Regions from separate parts of the Homo sapiens genome. Here regions 1, 2 and 3 are each reported to be linked to region 4. Evidence: microRNA targets listed by miRTarBase, many of them from high-throughput screens and not tested one by one. Region 4 holds a microRNA gene; each other region holds the end of a gene's coding sequence.

What was found. Region 4 holds the annotated microRNA hsa-miR-6799-5p (GGGGAGGUGUGCAGGGCUGG, at 2,649-2,668, opposite strand). A microRNA usually pairs through its seed, bases 2 to 8, with sites in the 3' UTR of a target mRNA and lowers its output. Matches are read on the target gene's strand: a 7mer-m8 pairs with bases 2 to 8, a 7mer-A1 pairs with bases 2 to 7 and ends in A, and an 8mer does both.
Region 1: the mRNA of TOX4 is a reported target of hsa-miR-6799-5p. Seed matches in the 3' UTR shown: 8mer at 1,445-1,452.
Region 2: miRTarBase lists PCDHB11 as a target of hsa-miR-6799-5p. Seed matches in the 3' UTR shown: 7mer-A1 at 1,668-1,674, 7mer-A1 at 1,974-1,980 and 7mer-A1 at 2,442-2,448.
Region 3: the mRNA of UBE2D4 is a reported target of hsa-miR-6799-5p. Seed matches in the 3' UTR shown: 7mer-A1 at 1,837-1,843, 7mer-A1 at 2,738-2,744, 7mer-A1 at 2,770-2,776 and 7mer-A1 at 2,905-2,911.

The regions. Positions count from the first base shown.
Region 1 is chr14:21,495,087-21,499,231 of GRCh38, reverse strand. TOX4 (TOX high mobility group box family member 4) reads right to left here. Exons shown (of 9, transcript NM_014828.4): 8 at 3,840-4,003; 9 at 62-2,686. The coding sequence ends at 2,626. It overlaps METTL3 (methyltransferase 3, N6-adenosine-methyltransferase complex catalytic subunit), which reads left to right. Exons shown (of 11, transcript NM_019852.5): 10 at 95-207; 11 at 863-1,094. The coding sequence ends at 974. Among named protein-coding and RNA genes, the nearest start is that of METTL3, 14 kb to the left of the region's middle. RefSeq lists enhancers at 391-440, 471-560.
Region 2 is chr5:141,200,893-141,205,183 of GRCh38, forward strand. PCDHB11 (protocadherin beta 11) reads left to right here. Exons shown (of 1, transcript NM_018931.3): 1 at 1-2,887. The coding sequence ends at 1,276. It also overlaps PCDHB@. Among named protein-coding and RNA genes, the nearest start is that of PCDHB11, 3.4 kb to the left of the region's middle.
Region 3 is chr7:43,951,618-43,955,908 of GRCh38, forward strand. UBE2D4 (ubiquitin conjugating enzyme E2 D4) reads left to right here. Exons shown (of 7, transcript NM_015983.4): 7 at 1,033-4,291. The coding sequence ends at 1,078. It also overlaps the pseudogene POLR2J4. Among named protein-coding and RNA genes, the nearest start is that of UBE2D4, 27 kb to the left of the region's middle. RefSeq lists silencers at 3,022-3,091, 3,132-3,181.
Region 4 is chr19:49,790,248-49,794,538 of GRCh38, reverse strand. MIR6799 (microRNA 6799) reads right to left here and starts at 2,673; the gene lies at 2,605-2,673. AP2A1 (adaptor related protein complex 2 subunit alpha 1) reads right to left here. Exons shown (of 23, transcript NM_130787.3): 5 at 2,475-2,604; 6 at 1,447-1,548.

The DNA.
Region 1 (4,145 bases), not on the chromosome of region 4:
CCCAGATTTTTCTCATTTAGATCATAAACATAATAGAAAGGGCTAGAATTGCAATCTTGTGTAACTTAAAAAGCAGCTAGTTTTTATTTCCTAGGTTCGTTCCACCAGTCATAAACCAGATGAAATCTATGGCATGATTGAAAGACTATCTCCTGGCACTCGCAAGATTGAGTTATTTGGACGACCACACAATGTGCAACCCAACTGGTAAGGTGACCAGAGAACAGGCTAGTCCTCAAGGGGCTATTATTTATGATTAAGGACAGAACTTAGTAGAGCTTCACATTGTTTTACACTAGTCCATAAATGAGCTTCACAGGATTCATAAGCCACTTAAGCTTGTATTTAAACTGTTTTATGAGATTCTACAAATATTCATTAGAAACTCAACAGGTTCTAGGACCCAAAAGCACTGCTCCCTAGGGTTTCTACTCTCTTCACAACCCAAGGATCTTCCTCAGCCATTCTGTGATGTATTGAATCTGCCCCCTGGTGGTTACGAAGTTATCTATTTAATCTGTCAATAATTACATCTTTCACCCCTTAACAGAGCTTAAAACACATGCTGCTAGCATTTTGCTTATCCAAAGAATACTCCCTGGTAGCAACTCTGTGAAGCAGGCCTGGCTAAGCATTAGTTACTAACCCTCAGATAATACAGATCCAGTCTATTTTAACACCAGAATCTATGCCAATTCTGAACTAGTAATTCTACCATATACTATTCTAATGTTAAGCTCTTTTTAGAATTGGCATATTTGATATGATGATAGGCAGTCTTCATTTGGTATGCATTTTTTAACAATATTAAACCCTCTAATTCCAGGATTTCTGGTTTGCCCCTCCTTTTACACTGTTTCAGGATCACCCTTGGAAACCAACTGGATGGGATCCACCTACTAGACCCAGATGTGGTTGCACGGTTCAAGCAAAGGTACCCAGATGGTATCATCTCTAAACCTAAGAATTTATAGAAGCACTTCCTTACAGAGCTAAGAATCCATAGCCATGGCTCTGTAAGCTAAACCTGAAGAGTGATATTTGTACAATAGCTTTCTTCTTTATTTAAATAAACATTTGTATTGTAGTTGGGATTCTGAAGTCCATTCTGGCTCTGCTACTTAACAGTGTATAATCTTGTGCAACTCATCTCTCAGTATTATATGTGAAATGGGAGTATTACCTCATTGGGTTGCTGTGAAGGTTCAAACTAAATGAGTGCATGGGAAACATTAAAATGATCATTATAGGCTAGGCACAGTGGCTCACACCTGTAATCCGAGCACTTTGGGAAGCCGAGGTAGGAGGGTAACTGTAGCCCAGGAGTTCAAGACTAGACTGGGCAACATAGTGAGACCCCATCTCTACTGCTACCCTCCAAAACCATTAAAAAAACAGGAATGCAGGCTGGGTGCGGTGGCTCATGCCTGTAATCCCAGCACTTTGGGAGGTCAAGGCGGGCGGATCATGAGGTCAGGAGTTCGAGACCAGCCTGGCCAACATGGTGAAACCCTGTCTCTACTAAAAATACCACAAATTAGCTGGGCGTAGTGGCGGGCGCCTGTAATCCTAGCTACTCGGGAGGCTGATGCAGGAGAATCGCTTGAACCCGGGAGGCAGAGGTTTCAGTGAGCTGAGGTCGCACCACTGCACTCCAGCCTGGGTGACAGAGCGAGACTCTGTCTCAAAAAAAAAAAAAAAAAAAAAAAACAAAAAACACACAGAAAACAGGAATGCATAGGATAAAACTATGTACGTAGCTGGTTGAGGAGGAGGTTCTCTAGGACAGCATTCCTGTCTACAAACAGTAAAAATTTGAGTTTTATTTAAAGTTATCACCACTTGGACTATCATGCTGTAAACTTCTGCTTATTCTGTTACAACCAGGTGGCTTCTCTAGTCTGTTTTTCTTTAGATTATGTCTAAGAAATAATGATAGACCTATGGTCTTTTAAAGATAGTTCATCAAACACAAGTGAATACAACTTTAGACTTTGGTGGAACCTCTTACTAATGATGTAGAGTTCCGCCTCTTAGATTCATGAACTGTGATAACTCAGATAAGGATGGTAACTGCAGAAATAATATATATAAAGAGAAATCACTCCTGGGTGATGTCATTTTCCATGTAGCCCAGTATGCCCATGTTGAAAAGTTTTGTTTTCAAAGCAGTGTACTGATGTGATAATGGGGAATAACATTTTTTTATGAGGGAACCCTTTAAAATGGATGCACACAGTGGCATTTTCTCCTAGGCTCAAAGCTGAGTACACTCCCGTAATTTTAATAATATTTTAGGCAAGTCCTATGACAATTATACCAACAAGTTTCTTCAACCCCACCACCACCCCACCATCTCTATGCTTTGCTTGCCCAGACTCCCTTCACCCTTTCCTCTGCTATTACCGCTTATGGTTGAAAGTAAAAAGCATCTCCAGATTACAGCAAATTCAGTGGCCCTGCTCCATAGCCTGGCCTCTGCTGAAGGAAGAAAAGGGGTGAAACATGAACAGCCATCATGGGTTGTGATGAGGCACTACCAGAAGCCCAGCTTGTGTTTCAAAAACAGGCTCTTGGACACTTTCCCAGCAGATAACTCTTCACTGGCTTGGAGAACAGGAAGGACTATTTCACAAACACCACTGTGTTTGAATTTCTAGAGGCTACCCAGGCCAAGAATACATCCCTAAGAGAGAAAAAGACATACACAAACAGAATTATACACAAACTGAAATAGAATTACAGCCTAGATACATTTTTTTTTTTGAGACGGACCTCATGGGTTCACGCCATTCTCCTGCCTTAGCCTCCCGAGTAGCTGGGACTACAGGTGCCCACCACCATGCCCGGCCAATTTTTTGTATTTTTAGTGGGGACAGGGTTTCACTGTGTTAGCCAGGATGGTCTTGATCTCCTGACCCCGTGAATCGCCCGCTTTGGCCTCCCAAAGTGCTGGGATTACAAGCGTGAGCCACCGCGCCCGGCCGCTACATTCTTTTTATCTTTTTTTTTTTTTTTTTGAGATGGAGTCTCGCTGTTGCCCAGGCTGGAGTGCAGTGGCGTGATCTTCTTGGCTCACTGCAACCTCCACCTCCCAGGTTCAAGAGATTCTCCTGCTTCAGCCTCCTGAGTAGCCAGGACTACAGGTGCCTGCCACCATGCCCGGCTAATTTTTGTATTTTTAGTAGAGATGGGGTTTCACTGTATGGCCCAGCTGGATTTTTTATCTGTCTTAAACAAATAGGTTCCCAGATAATTTCCTACAGCATTATGGTGAGATAGTATCACCTTGAAAATATAAGAACAGTGGGCTTAAAAGTCAGAAGTAGAGGCAATGCTAATTTACTGCAGAGTTTTTGAAATAGGAAATAGAAATGCCTTGTCCTACAGCTATAGGAAATTCCCAGGAAAATTTGGGGAGAGGGGTAAAATATTCCAACCATCTCCCCATTTCCTTCACAAATTGCAAATTATTATGTGTTACTTTCCACTTACCATTTCTCCCCAAATTCTAGTTCCCTAAGTAGTCTGATTTGCACCAAGAATTGAAAAGCTAATATTTGCAAACACTAACAGCTTAATGTATTATATTTTTAAAGAGCATACATAAGAGAGGTATGTGGTAACTGAAAAATGTGAACTGCTGATTACATCATCTTTGGCTTATGTGGCAAATGTAAGCTCTTAAGCAGGGGAGCTTTTCTAGTAGACCAGATACAGCAACCTACTCTACCTAAGGTAAGGTGACACTGAGATGCTGATTTTATGCTCAAGATTCCTATGTTTCCCAGTAGAATTGACCAGTAGCTGAATTATAAAAGGGAGAACTGTAAGCTCACCTGCAGTGCTTCACCACACACTCATTGCTGCAGTATTCATTGTCCCAGTCCTTACTCACAATGGGAGGGTTCTCACAACCAGACCTCACACATCGAGGCTGGGGTGAGAGTGCCACAGGAGACCCACTCACCAATTCAACATCCATCTGAGAAGGAGACTCAACCTGTGAGAAGAAGAAGAGTACCAAGGTGGATTAGATTGCTCCCTGCCTAGCTAGCTAGTTAGCTAAATTATCTGTAGAAACCAATGAAGCAACAGGTATTAGAATTCCTCACACTGGGGGGCAAAACTGCAGAAGAAGGTGA
Region 2 (4,291 bases), not on the chromosome of region 4:
AGACTCTGGGGACAACGGAAGAATTGTTTGTTCCATTCCGGAAGACCTCCCATTCGTGCTAAAATCTTCAGTTGAGAATTACTACACGTTGGAAACAGAGAGACCACTGGACAGAGAGAGCACAGCCGAGTACAATATCACCATCACCGTCACCGACTTGGGGATACCCAGGCTGAAAACCGAGCACAACACAACTGTGTTGGTCTCTGACGTCAATGACAACGCCCCCACCTTCACCCAAACCTCCTACACCCTGTTCGTCCGCGAGAACAACAGCCCCGCCCTGCACATCGGCAGTGTCAGCGCTACAGACAGAGACTCAGGCACCAACGCCCAGGTCAACTACTCGCTACTCCCGCCCCAGGACCTGCACCTGCCCCTCGCCTCCCTGGTCTCCATCAACACAGACAACGGCCACCTGTTCGCCCTCAGGTCGCTGGACTACGAGGCCCTGCAGGCTTTCGACTTCCGCGTGGGCGCCACAGACCGCGGCTCCCCGGCTTTGAGCAGCGAGGCGCTGGTGCGCGTGCTGGTGCTGGACGCCAACGACAACTCGCCCTTCGTGCTGTACCCGCTGCAGAACGGCTCCGCGCCCTGCACCGAGCTGGTGCCCCGGGCGGCCGAGCCGGGCTACCTGGTGACCAAGGTGGTGGCGGTGGACGGCGACTCGGGCCAGAACGCCTGGCTGTCGTACCAGCTGCTCAAGGCCACGGAGCCCGGGCTATTCGGCGTGTGGGCGCACAATGGCGAGGTGCGCACCGCCAGGCTGCTGAGCGAGCGCGACGCGGCCAAGCACAGGCTGGTGGTGCTGGTCAAGGACAATGGCGAGCCTCCGCGCTCGGCCACCGCCACGCTGCAAGTGCTCCTGGTGGACGGCTTCTCCCAGCCCTACCTGCCGCTCCCTGAGGCGGCACCGGCCCAGGCCCAGGCCGACTCGCTCACCGTCTACTTGGTGGTGGCGTTGGCCTCGGTGTCTTCGCTCTTCCTCTTCTCGGTGCTCCTGTTCGTGGCGGTGCGGCTGTGCAGGAGGAGCAGGGCGGCCTCGGTGGGAAGCTGCTCGGTGCCTAAGGGCCCCTTTCCAGGGCATCTGGTGGACGTGAGCGGCACCGGGACCCTTTCCCAGAGCTACCAGTACGAGGTGTGTCTGACGGGAGGTTCCGAGACAAATGAATTCAAGTTCCTAAAACCGGTTATCCCTAATATCCAGGCAAAAGGTCTTGGGAAGAATAGTGAAGAAAACTCCACCTTTCGAAATAGCTTTGGATTTAATTTTTAGTAAGAATGCTATTTACATTTGCATGTACTTTTTTAGTTTTATGTAACCATATCAATATTATTTAGTCTTAAACTAGTTACGTTATTATGCAATACGACTAATTGTATTTTTAATTTTTTCTTTTCTCCCCCAATTTTTTTTTTTTTTTTGAGACCGAGTCTCATTCTGTCGCCCTGGCTGGAGTGCAATGGTGTGATCTCAGCTCACTGCACCCTCCGCCTCTCGGGTTCAAGCAATTCTCCTGCATCAGCCTCCCGAGTAGCTGGCATTACAGGCGCCCACCACCACGCTCGGCTAAATTTTTTTTTTTTTTATCTTTAGTAGAGACGGGGTTTCACCACGTTGGCCGGGCAGGTTTTAAACTCTTGACCTCATGTTCCACCCGCCACGGCCTCCCAAAGTGCTGTGATTACCGGTGTGAGCCACTGCGCCCGGCCTTTTTTTTTTCTTTTCTTTTCTTTTTTTTGATACAGAGTCTTAGTCACCCAGACTAGAGGTCAGTGGCAGGATCTCAGCTCACTGCAACCTCTGCCTCCTGGGCTCAAGAGACCAGCCCACCTCCGCCTCCAAGTAGCTGGGACTACAGGCGTGCGCCACCATGCCCGGCTACTTCTTGTATTTTTTGTAGAGACGGATCGTCACCATATTTCTTAGGCTGGCCTTTAACTTCTGAGCTCAAGAGATGCACTCCCCTCAGCCTCCCAAAGTGCTGGGATTACAGGCGGCCAGGCCTATTTTCAATTTTCAAGTATTGCATATCATTGTGAATAACATTGTAAATCCTTTTTATATTAAGTAACAGGTAGTTAATCCATTTCTAATGAATAATTTTAAGGTTTTAATCCTTTCCAAGTGTACAATAATTTACTGATTATTATTTCTTATTCTAGAAAACTGACTTTGATTTTTCTCTTAGGTTGTTTTGTTTTGTTTTGTTTTTTGAGACGATGTTTCACTCTTGTCGCCCAGGCTGGTGTGCAATGGCGTGATCTCGGCTCACTGCAGTCTCTGCCTCCCGGGTTCTCCTGCCTCAGCCTCCCGAGTAGCTGGGATTACAGGTGCACCACCACACCCAGCTAATTTTGCATTTTTAGTAGAGACGGGGTTTCACCATGTTGGTCAGGCTGGTCTCTAACTCTTGATATCAGTGATCCGCCCGCCTCAGCCTCCCAAAAAGCTGGGATTACAGGCGTGAGCCACCGTGCCCAGGCTCCCCTAGTATTTTTCACTGTCTGCATCCTATGATCCTAACCACCTGTGTATTGTAGTTTCTTCATGGGAGAAGTCATATCTGCCCTTCCAACCTTATTCTAACATTCTATTTATTCATTTAAAAAGCCACATCATCTAGTTCTAAATCACAGCATTTAAAGAGAAACATTTCATTATTAATGTGCTCATGGTAAATTAAATATTATTTTGTGATCAATATTATACTTCAATACTAACTTTGTGCTTGTATTATTTTCTTAAATATACTACACTTACTTGGCTAATATTTTTAATGCTTTTGTGTGTGTATATATATATATAGAGAGAGAGAGAGATCATGGCTTATAATCCAAACAAAATGTAATAAACTGCATGAAAATAAATAGGAATATTAAAACATTTTGATAATTTTGGGATGAGGATATTGGTGGACTGTTGGAAAGATATTCACTTTTCCTTTTATTTTGTAAATTTATTTCATTATTTTCAAATGTAAAAATCAAGATGAACTAAAGGTTGAAAGAAAAACAAGGCCTGCCTCAGTGGCTTGGCTGGGTGGGTTAGATCACACCTGTAATCTCAGCACTTTGGAAGGCTGAGGCGGGCGGGTCACCTGAGGTTGGGAGTTCAAGACCAGCCTGGCCAACACAGTGAAACCCCATCTACACTAAAAAATACAAGAAGTAGCTGGGTGTGGTGGTGCGTGCCTATAATCCCAGCTACTCAGGAGGCTGAGACAGGAGAATCACTTGAACCCAGGAGGCAGAGGTTGCAGTGAGCCAAGATCTTGCCACTGCACTCCAGCCTGGGTGACAGAGCGATACTCCGTCTCAAAAAAAAAAAAAAAAAAAAAAAAAAGAAAGAAAGAAAAGAAAAGAACAGAACAATATTTTCTTTAATTTCCAGTCTCCTTCTATTGAGTGGCTTCTTCTAGAATTACCTCAATACTTCTAAATGATATGTTTTTGCTGTTAAATCTTGCTACTCCATTTTACATTTTAATCACTTCTTGCTATGTATTTTTTAAAAAAGATTTAACTTTCTTTTCAACTAATGTAAACCAATATAAGCACTGCACATTCCCTTTCTCCTATTCTCCCAATAAAATTGTTACAGTTTTTTTTTTCTTTTTGACAGAGTCTTACTCTGTCGCCCAGGTTGGAGTACAGTGGTGTGATCTCAGCTCACTGTAACCTCTGCTTCCCAGGTTCAAGTGATTCTCCTGCCTCAGCCTCCTGAATAGCTGGGATTACAGGCACCCACCACCACACCTGGCTAGTTTTGTAGCTTTAGTAGAGATGGGGTTTCACCATGTTGGCCAGGCTTGTCTTGAACTCCTGACCCCAGCTGATCCTCCTGCCTCAGCCTCCCAAAGTGTTGAGATTACAGGCGTGAGCCACAGTGCCCAGCCTACAGTTTTTTTTAAGTTAAACTAATAGTGTCCATATTGCTAAGCTTTCTTCAAAATACACATTAGTGTAGTGTGATTAAATTTCCTTTCTTGAGAAACATTTTTCCTAGAACTGAAAATTGTTTTGTACTTACATAATTTTCCATTTACTAATATTAGTTTCTTTACATTCTCTAATTTGAATCTCTTTCTTCTCAAAATATTCAAATATATCAGATACCTGTCAATTATGTTTATTTCTTGGTGATCTTGCACCCAGATCTCTACTTCATTCATACTGGTTGCTCTATAGGCTGTCACCCTAGGACTTTAAAAAATATTTTTCTTTGTTGGTCCTTTTTTATAAGATCCAGTACATTCTTCTTTCTTAGTTTACTCACTTATTTTGTTGA
Region 3 (4,291 bases), not on the chromosome of region 4:
TCTTCCAGGCTCAACCTATCCTCCTGCCTCAGCCTCCTGAGTAGCTGGGACTACAGGCGTGTCCCACCACACCTGGCTAATTTTTTGTAGAGACAGGGTTTTGCCATGTTGCCCAGGCTGGTCTTAAACTCCTGGACTCGAGCAATCTGCCCACCTAGGCCACCCAAAGTGCTGGGATTATAGGCGTGAGCCACCACACTCAGCCACATGTTTTTTTCAAATTATATTTTTCTTAAGACCTTTATAGATCTTATTATTTCCCTCATTGGAGTTTTCTCAATAACAGTCAAAATTTTTAATTGACTGGGTTTGTTTATTTTAACACTTTTTACAAGATATTTTAGACATACCAAAAGTGATTTTTTTTCAGTGCCTCTTGTAACTATAAATCTCTCTAATTTATAGTCTCATAGCATCAAGTGTCATTACAATGATGAGAGTAAGTGCACACACCTGCATAGTCTTCAATGGATGCCTGGCCTGCTCCATGTGCTTTACATACAGACTTCTCTAGTTTCCCCACAAGCACACAAGGCAGATACTTTCCCCATGGCAAGCAATCAAAAAAGCCAGGACACAGAGGGGCGGAACAGCTGCTGAGGACTGTACTGATGCACACCCCGGTAGGCAGATTCCCAAGCCCTTGTTCTGGAGTTTGTGTGCTGGACGGCCTGTAACTAGTACAAACTGACCTTTGTGTGTCTCTTCTCTGTCCTCCCTGCATCCATATTGTAGGACAGGAGAAAGAAAGGGAGGAAGTCTGTTGCATTATTAAATCTTCCACAGCAGATAGTTATGGAGAATCAACAGTTTGGGGTTTACACATGAGGGGTTCACCCAGCTGGGGGTTTACAGCCATGTCTGATGTGCTCCTGCTCCAGGGAAAGCCTTTATTCCACTCACCCATCAGCCGTAGATGTTTGACAAGCAGCAGCAGCAGCATTCCCCACATCAGTCCTGTTCTCTGCAGCACATTGAAGGGAAGTGACCATTTCAAGTGAGGGTGTCACTTCCTCTGCTTTTTTATTCCAGGTACAACAGACTAGCAAGAGAGTGGACACAAAAATATGCTATGTAAGTGCCTTGGAGGTTTTACATGAGACACTGTCCAAGAGAAGCTGGCAGAGAGGTCTTCCCTTAAAACTTTGGGCTGTTGGCTGAGCCATTCAAAGAGCATCATCTGTTCTTCAAACAAATGTTGGTCACCCACTCTCTCCAGCTGCAGCATGTTGGTGCCATTTTCAGCAATTACGGCTTTGACAGTGCCACCTCTTTGATGCCAAATCAGCAACCATTGTTGTTATGATCTGCAGTCTTCCTGGTGACACTGGAATCTCTCTCTCTGCCGCCTCAGTTTGTCTGCTGGTCTCTTGGGGGGCCAGGCCCTGCACGTCTCTCCTACCCGGCCTCAAATGGTGCTGCTGCCCATGATGGTACCACACCAGGGCCTCAGCCTGGCCCCTCACCACATACCCTTTGCCTTTTAGAACTCAGTGCCATCCTGGGTGCCCAGGGCAGAGCAGGCTTTGTTCGCACCTCATCTGCTGCAGAACCACATCCTGAGGAGTCTCAGCTTATCCTGGAGGGAATTGGGAACAGTGTCACTGGGAAGTGAAGGCCTAGCCCTGTGGCTTCCACCAGTCTCCTCCTGCAGTGCCACGTGGTGGCATTTCTCGCCTCACACCAAGAAGCAGCAAGTGGAAAATTTCAGGATACAAAGCACATAACACCCCATAAGAGATGATTATGTTTTTAGAAGCAAGAGCAAAATTATGAAACCTCTAGAGATTTGGGTCATGTTACTCCATTTGATGAAGATTCTCACTACCGCCCGCTCCTCCCATAGGAGCCTACACTAAGTCCAAGTGTGAGCCATTCACAGACTAGAACACAAGGAGGGAGAGAGACTCTTAAACGTAAATAAAAATGCAATTCACTCACAACTCTAAATGATAATTGACATTTCAGCCTCTTTCTTTTAGGCAAAACAGAAGATACACACTATTAACAGTTATTTGAAGCCTTAAATTACAATAGCCTGTTAGGTGATCGGCTTTCTGCCTTGGCTTTCTGATGCAGCACATTTTAAGATTTGCCTTTAAAGCTTTGAGCCTTGAGATTAGGTTAGTTAGGAAGAGGACAACAAAGGGAAGAGATTATTCTAATAAAACTTCCACAGAGGGAAGAAAATTGAGGAGCTTCAGATCTCTAAAGCCAAATTCAACCTGATCTTTCTAGGTTGGTTATAAAGCTGGTCCACTTCCAGGAAGTGATGTGTAGGTGAATAGGAACAAAAGGTGAAGAAGCAGTAAAACTGTGACCAAGTGGCCAGATGGGGCTTTTGCCGGCTGATTGAAAGGAAGTCTACAGACCTAACATAAGCAGTCAGCCAAAGGTGGCTGTGGGAGGTTGATTTCTTCCAGAAACTTCCAAGTTGTGGCTACAAATTTATTGCCAGATATTTTCCCACTGAGAATACTGAGGTTATTCACATAATCACTTCCTTAACAAAGGAAGAAGCACTTTTAACTTGGGCTGCATTCCCTTTGTGAGGGTCCACATTTAGGATCCTCCTGCTACCATAAGGCCCCTTTTGGGGTTCTTTGGGTGTGGCTGCATCTCACCATGTTGAGGATTGCCTTTTTTTTTTTTTTTTTTTTTTTTTTTTAACACAGAGCCTTGCTCTGTCTCCCAGGCTGGAGTGCAGTGGTGCGATCTTGGCTCACTGCAACCTCTGCCTCCCAGGTTCAAGCAATTCTCCTGCCTCAGCCTCCCAAGTAGCCGGAATTACAGGCATGTGCCACCATGCTGGGCTAATTTTTGTATTTTTAGTGGAGACGGTGTTTCACCATGTTGGCCAGGCTGTTCTTGAACTCCTGGCCTCAAGTGACCCGCCCACATTGGCCTCCCAAAGTGCTGGGATTACAGGCGTGAGCCCCCGTGCCCAGCAAGGATTGCTGTTTTAATTCTTGTATCTTCGTTGCTTCTTTGGTCTTTGCTTAAACAAAACAATAAAGCTTAATAGTTGGGGAGAATGCTGTTACCAGTGTCCTCTAGGAAGGCTGTTAGCATATGGCTCTACTGAGCAGCAGTGCCATCTGGTGCCTGAGATCATGTGCTTCAGGCAGTTGTCACACTGCATCTACAGCCAAGCATCACAGAAACACTTCACTCATGTGGTCAGGGAAGGTGGGACTGATTCACATGTTAGAGACAGGTCAGATGGGAAAATTAAGGCCCAACTTGGTGTTGGGGAATAACCATACTCTGGTCTTTCAAGTGTAGTAGCTGATGATTCCCAAGAAACTGATGAATTTTCTGAGTCCAGACAAAATTTCCCCAAGCCTGCTCTCTCTGTTGGATATACATAATAGAGAAAGTCAAATCAGCCCTTTGGGGTTTGTGGTAAAAATTCACTCACCCATTGAAGCCTAAGGTGGCTTTGTACCTTCCAGATCTCTCAGCAAATCCCCTGGGCAGAAATGTCACCTGCTTGCCATGTCTTTGAGGGGTTCAGGTCAGCCTGGAGAACAGGCTCCTTAGGTCAAAAACCTTGTTTTAAGAGCCACTGTGGTACAGTCAATGTAACCCACTTGTGCAGAAGCCATGCTTCCAAGGAAGGTCTCAGGTTGACAACTAGACATCAAATCTGAGAAGCCAACTGTGGAGTAATGTGTTTTTTTCTCTGTGGACAAGAGTGATCAGAAAGGTGCTTGATCTTGAACAATTGATCCATGATGAAAAAATGACCATTAGCTCTCCCCCAGAAGCGTCTGTGTTTGCTGAATGGAGCTGAGATTTTGATCCGCTATCAGACTCCAGAAAGATCCAGGAGTTCCAAGAACATGGCAAAGAGTCAAAATCTTAGGACAAGGAATTAAAATGCCAGAATGCAAATGTCCAACAGGCCTGGTAGCTCACAGCTATCAACACCCTAGAATTCCACACTGCCTCACTGCAGTTGCTCAAGGATGGGTATGTTTCTGTCTCTGAAATTCGGGAAAAAGCCTTAAGTGCCAGAGAAGGTGCTTCCAAGACTGTCTGCAGAATTCCTTTCCTAGGGTCTGTCTCTGGTACCCAAAAGGGCAGAGAAGGAACCCTAAGATTAGCATAGAGCCACTCATCTCTCCTCCCCTCCCCACCCCTTCTTCCCCTGCTTCCATTCCCCATGGCTCTCTCCTCTGACTGTGAAACACTTCCTCTCCAGCAGTGTTGGGAAAGTTCTGGACCTCTACTGGATCTAGCCATAAATGGTGGTCTTCAGAAAAATGGAGATTGTGGCTGCCAGCAC
Region 4 (4,291 bases):
ACTCAGATGTGTGATGAATGAATGAAACAATGACTGAGGCTGAGTGCAGTGGCTCACACCTGTAATCCCAGCACTTTCGGAGGCTGAGGCGGGAGGATCACTTGAAGCCAGGAGTTTGAGACCAGTGTGGGCGACAAAGCAAGACCGATCTCTACAAAAAATACAAAAATTAGCCAGGCACCTGCAGTCCCAGCTACTCGGGAGGCTGAGGCGAGAGATCGCTTGAGCCTAGGAGCCAGAGGCTGCAGTGAACCATGGCTGCACTACTGCACTCCAGCCTGGGCGACAGCAAGACCCTGTCTCAAAAAAAAAAAAAACCTGAGAAAGAAACAATGAGTGGGCCAGGCGCAGTGGCTCACGCCGGTAATCCCAGCACTTTAGGAGGCCGAGGCGGGTGGATCACGAGGTCAGGAGATCGAGATCATCCTGGCTAACACGGTGAAACCCTGTCTCTACTAAAAATACAAAAAATTAGCCGGGCATAGTGGCAGGCGCCTGTAGTCCCAGCTACTCGGGAGGCTAAGGCTGGAGAATGGCGTGAACCTGGGAGCTTGCAGTGAGCCGAGATCGCGCCACTGCACTCCAGCCTGGGGACAGAACGAGACTCCGTCTCAAAAAAAAAAAAAAAAAAAAAAAAAAAGAAACAATGAGTGGATGCACGAGCTGGTGTGTTCTTCTCTTTGCCTGCGAATCCAGGCCTCTTCCTGACTGCCCAGGAGATGCGCATGTGTATTCTAAGTCTCAATTCTGGGATCGCCGCCCCCAGGAAGCCTTCGTGGACTCACAGGCTGTGTTAAGTGCCTCCTATGGGTGACCTATCCTACCTCCATTATAGCACGAGTCACCCCTTTTCTGACAATCTGTGACTGAGTCACCTCCCTGCCAGAAGGACAGGGAGCTCCTTAAGAGCAGAGCTTGGTTCTGACTCATCTGTGTCCCTGGTGTCACCCGACATGGAGCCTGGCATGCACAAGGCCTCAGGGGATGTTCCTGGGCAGGACAGGAGCAAAGGTGGGAGAGGGACGCCAGGCAGGAGTGAGAGGCTGCACAGGAAAGAGAGAGGCGGGAGGCAAAGCCAGAAGAGGGAAAGTGGGAGACAGAGAGAGAAGTGGGAGAGGGAGGAGGTCATGAGGGCGGCTGGCTCCCGGGGTGCTCGGCCCGCGAGGCCCTGTTCTGAGCACTCTATCCACAGCGCTCTGTGCCTCCAGGTGGGCACCGGTATTATCCCCACTGAACACAGGGGGCAGCTGAGGCCAGGGAGGTGAAGCCACTTGTCCAGGGCCACCCAGCCAGGAAGAGGCCGAGCCAGGATGAATCCAGCTCAGAGCCTGAGTTTGTAAACCTTGGGCTGGGCTGCCTCTCAGGGAGAGTGGGGGCCTGAGGGGTGTCAGAGGGCATAGGGATGCCAGGGCCACCTCCAGCAGCCAATATCTAGGCCACACCCACCCGGCTCAGGCGCGACACAGCCAGAGAGACGCACGTCTTGAAGTCATCTGGGTTCTTCTTGCAGAGACAGGTGATGAGGCTGACGGCGGCCGTGACCACACCCTGCAGGGGCAGAGGAGAGACAAGTCAGGCCCCTGGGGGAGGTGGTACCTGAGAGCAGAGGCTCAGGAGCGGGACAGGGTCGGGATGTGTGTGCAGTCGGGAAGATGGGGTTTAGGGGTGTGCACATGTGTCACTGTGCGTGCTTTAGGGGTGGGGTGAGGAGGCCACGGGGCCTCGGGCGCCATGGCCAGCACTGACCTGGGTGTGTGGGGTGTCCCTGGCAGGACCCCAGGCAGCTGGGTAAGGAGCAGTGAAGGGGCGAGACTCTAGAGGGTTGGGACTGTGGGGGTGGGACAGTCAAGGTTTCTGCGCTGGTGCGCAGGTGATGGGCGCTGTTGGGGGAATCTCCAGGTATTAGAAACAGAGTGGGATTTTCTAAGGGACTGGGTGGTTGGTGAGGGGTGTGGGGGTCACTGGACAGGATCCCTGGCCAGCCAGGGGAGTGTCAGAGATGGGGATGGGAGGGTTTCTGGACACTTGGGCAGGTAATGAGTACCGGGGACACTGGATCATGGTTTCTGGTGTCTGGTGAACGTCAGCGCCGAGGGGGAAGCTCCAGGAATCCAGGGGGATCAGGGCTGAGGTGGGAGCCCCAGGCATCCAGGGGGCGTGAGGGCTGAGGTGGGAGCCCTGGGTATCCGGGGGCGTGAGGGCTGAGGTGGGAGCCCTGGGTATCCGGGGGCGTGAGGGCTGAGGTGGGAGCCCTGGGCATCCAGGGGGCGTGAGGGCTGAGGTGGGAGCCCTGGGTATCCGGGGGCGTGAGGGCTGAGGTGGGAGCCCCGGGCATCCAGGGGGTGCGTGGGCTGAGGTGGGAGCCCTGGGTATCCGGGGGTGTGAGGGCTGAGGTGGGAGCCCCGGGCATCCAGGGGGGTCAGGGCTGAGGTGGGAGCCCTGGGTATCCGGGGGTGTGAGGGCTGGGGGCTCACCATGTGCTGGTCATTGAGCAGGTGTACCACACGCGCCGTCCACTCGCCCATGGGCACCAGGTCAGGCGAGGCCTTGTACAGTCGAAGGAGGCACAGGGCCGCACTCTGCTTGACACTGTCCATGCTGTCCCTGTGGGGACACCATGCAGGGCAGGGGAAGCAGAGTCAGTGACCCCAGCCCTGCACACCTCCCCTCCTCTCCTGTTCCTCCCAGGAAGGGTGTGCGAGGCCAGCGAGAGGGACAGACAGCCAGGCGGCCGCAGGATCCAGTCTGGCGCTGACCTCACGGCCCACCAGGACTCAGTGTCTTCATCTGCAAAATGATTGCATCTCAGTAACCTCACAGGGCTCAGGAACATGTCAAGCCTGGCTCTGCACCTTCATTCATTCACCAAGCACCTACTGGGTGCCCATGGGGTACCAGGCACTGCTGTTCACTCCATGGATAGAGTGGTGAATAAAGTGGTCCAAACACTTGTCCTCACAGGGCTTACATTTCAGACAGCACCACGAAAACACATACATCAAATACTGTCAGGGCTGGGCATGGTGGCTCACGCCTATAATCCCAGCACTTTGGGAGGTCGAGGTGGGAGGATCACTTGAGGCCATGAATTCAAGACCAGCCTGGGCGACAGTGAGACCCAGTCTCTTCAAAAATACAAAAATTAGCTGGGTGTGGTGGCGCAGGCTTGTAATCCCAGCTACTCGGGAGGGTGAGGTGGGAGGATTGCTCGAGACTGGGAGGTCGAGGCGGCAGTGCACCATGACTGTGCCACTGCACTCCCTCTAGCTTGGGCAACAGAGTTAGAGCTGTCTCTAAATAAATAAAAAAATTTAAAAATAAACAAAACAGAGTAACTTAAGGAGGAAAGACTGAAAATCCTCTGCAACAGAACATCCCAGGCAGAGGGAACAGCCTGTGCCAAGGCCATCAGGAAGGCGGAGCCCGTGTGTAGGAGGAGCAGCAAGGAGGCCTGCAGGCTGCGGCCTGAGCCATGGGGCAGGAGGGCTGCAGATAGGACAGGGAGGGAACAGAGAGCCAGACCCTGCAGGGCCTTGTTGGCTGAAGTGAGGACTTGGCTTTTTACCGATTGGGAGATGAAAGCCGCTGTGGGTGGTGAGCAGAGAATCAGCGTGATGTTAACACGACAGCAGGAACAGCTGCCCCCGGACCCCTTCGGCCTGTCCAGCACTCCCACAGGTCTCTGGGTGGATTCACACGTTTATCTTCTCTCCACAACAAACTGAGAAAATGGGTGTATTTTTGATCTGGCTTAGGTTTTTAAAGGGTCCCTCTGCCTGTTGTGAGGGAACAGACTTTGCAAGGCTCTTTTGAATCCAAGGGAATATATTCACAGGTTCTGGGGGTTAGGGTGGCTCACGCCTGTAATCCCAGCACTTTAGGAGGCTGAGGTGGGAGAATCACTTGAGCCCAAGAGTTGGAGACCAGCCTGGGCAACATGGTGAGACCCCCATCTCTACTAGAAATATGAGAATTAGCCAAGCGTGGTGGCGCATGCCTGTAGACCCACCTACTTGGCAGGCTGAGGTGGGAGGATCGCTTTAGCCTGGGAGGTGAAGGCTGCAGCCTGGGTGGCAGAGCAAGACCCTGTCTCCAAACAAAAAAAAGGGTGGGGGTACTTTGCAGATATGATAAAGTTAAGGATCATGAGATGGAGAGAGGATCCTGGGTGATCCAGGTGGACCCAATGTCATCACAGGGTCCTTATAAGGGAAAGATACAGTTCAGAGTCAGAGATGATGTGAGGATGGAACAGAGGTCAGGCAGGAGAGAAGATGCCACACTGCTGCCT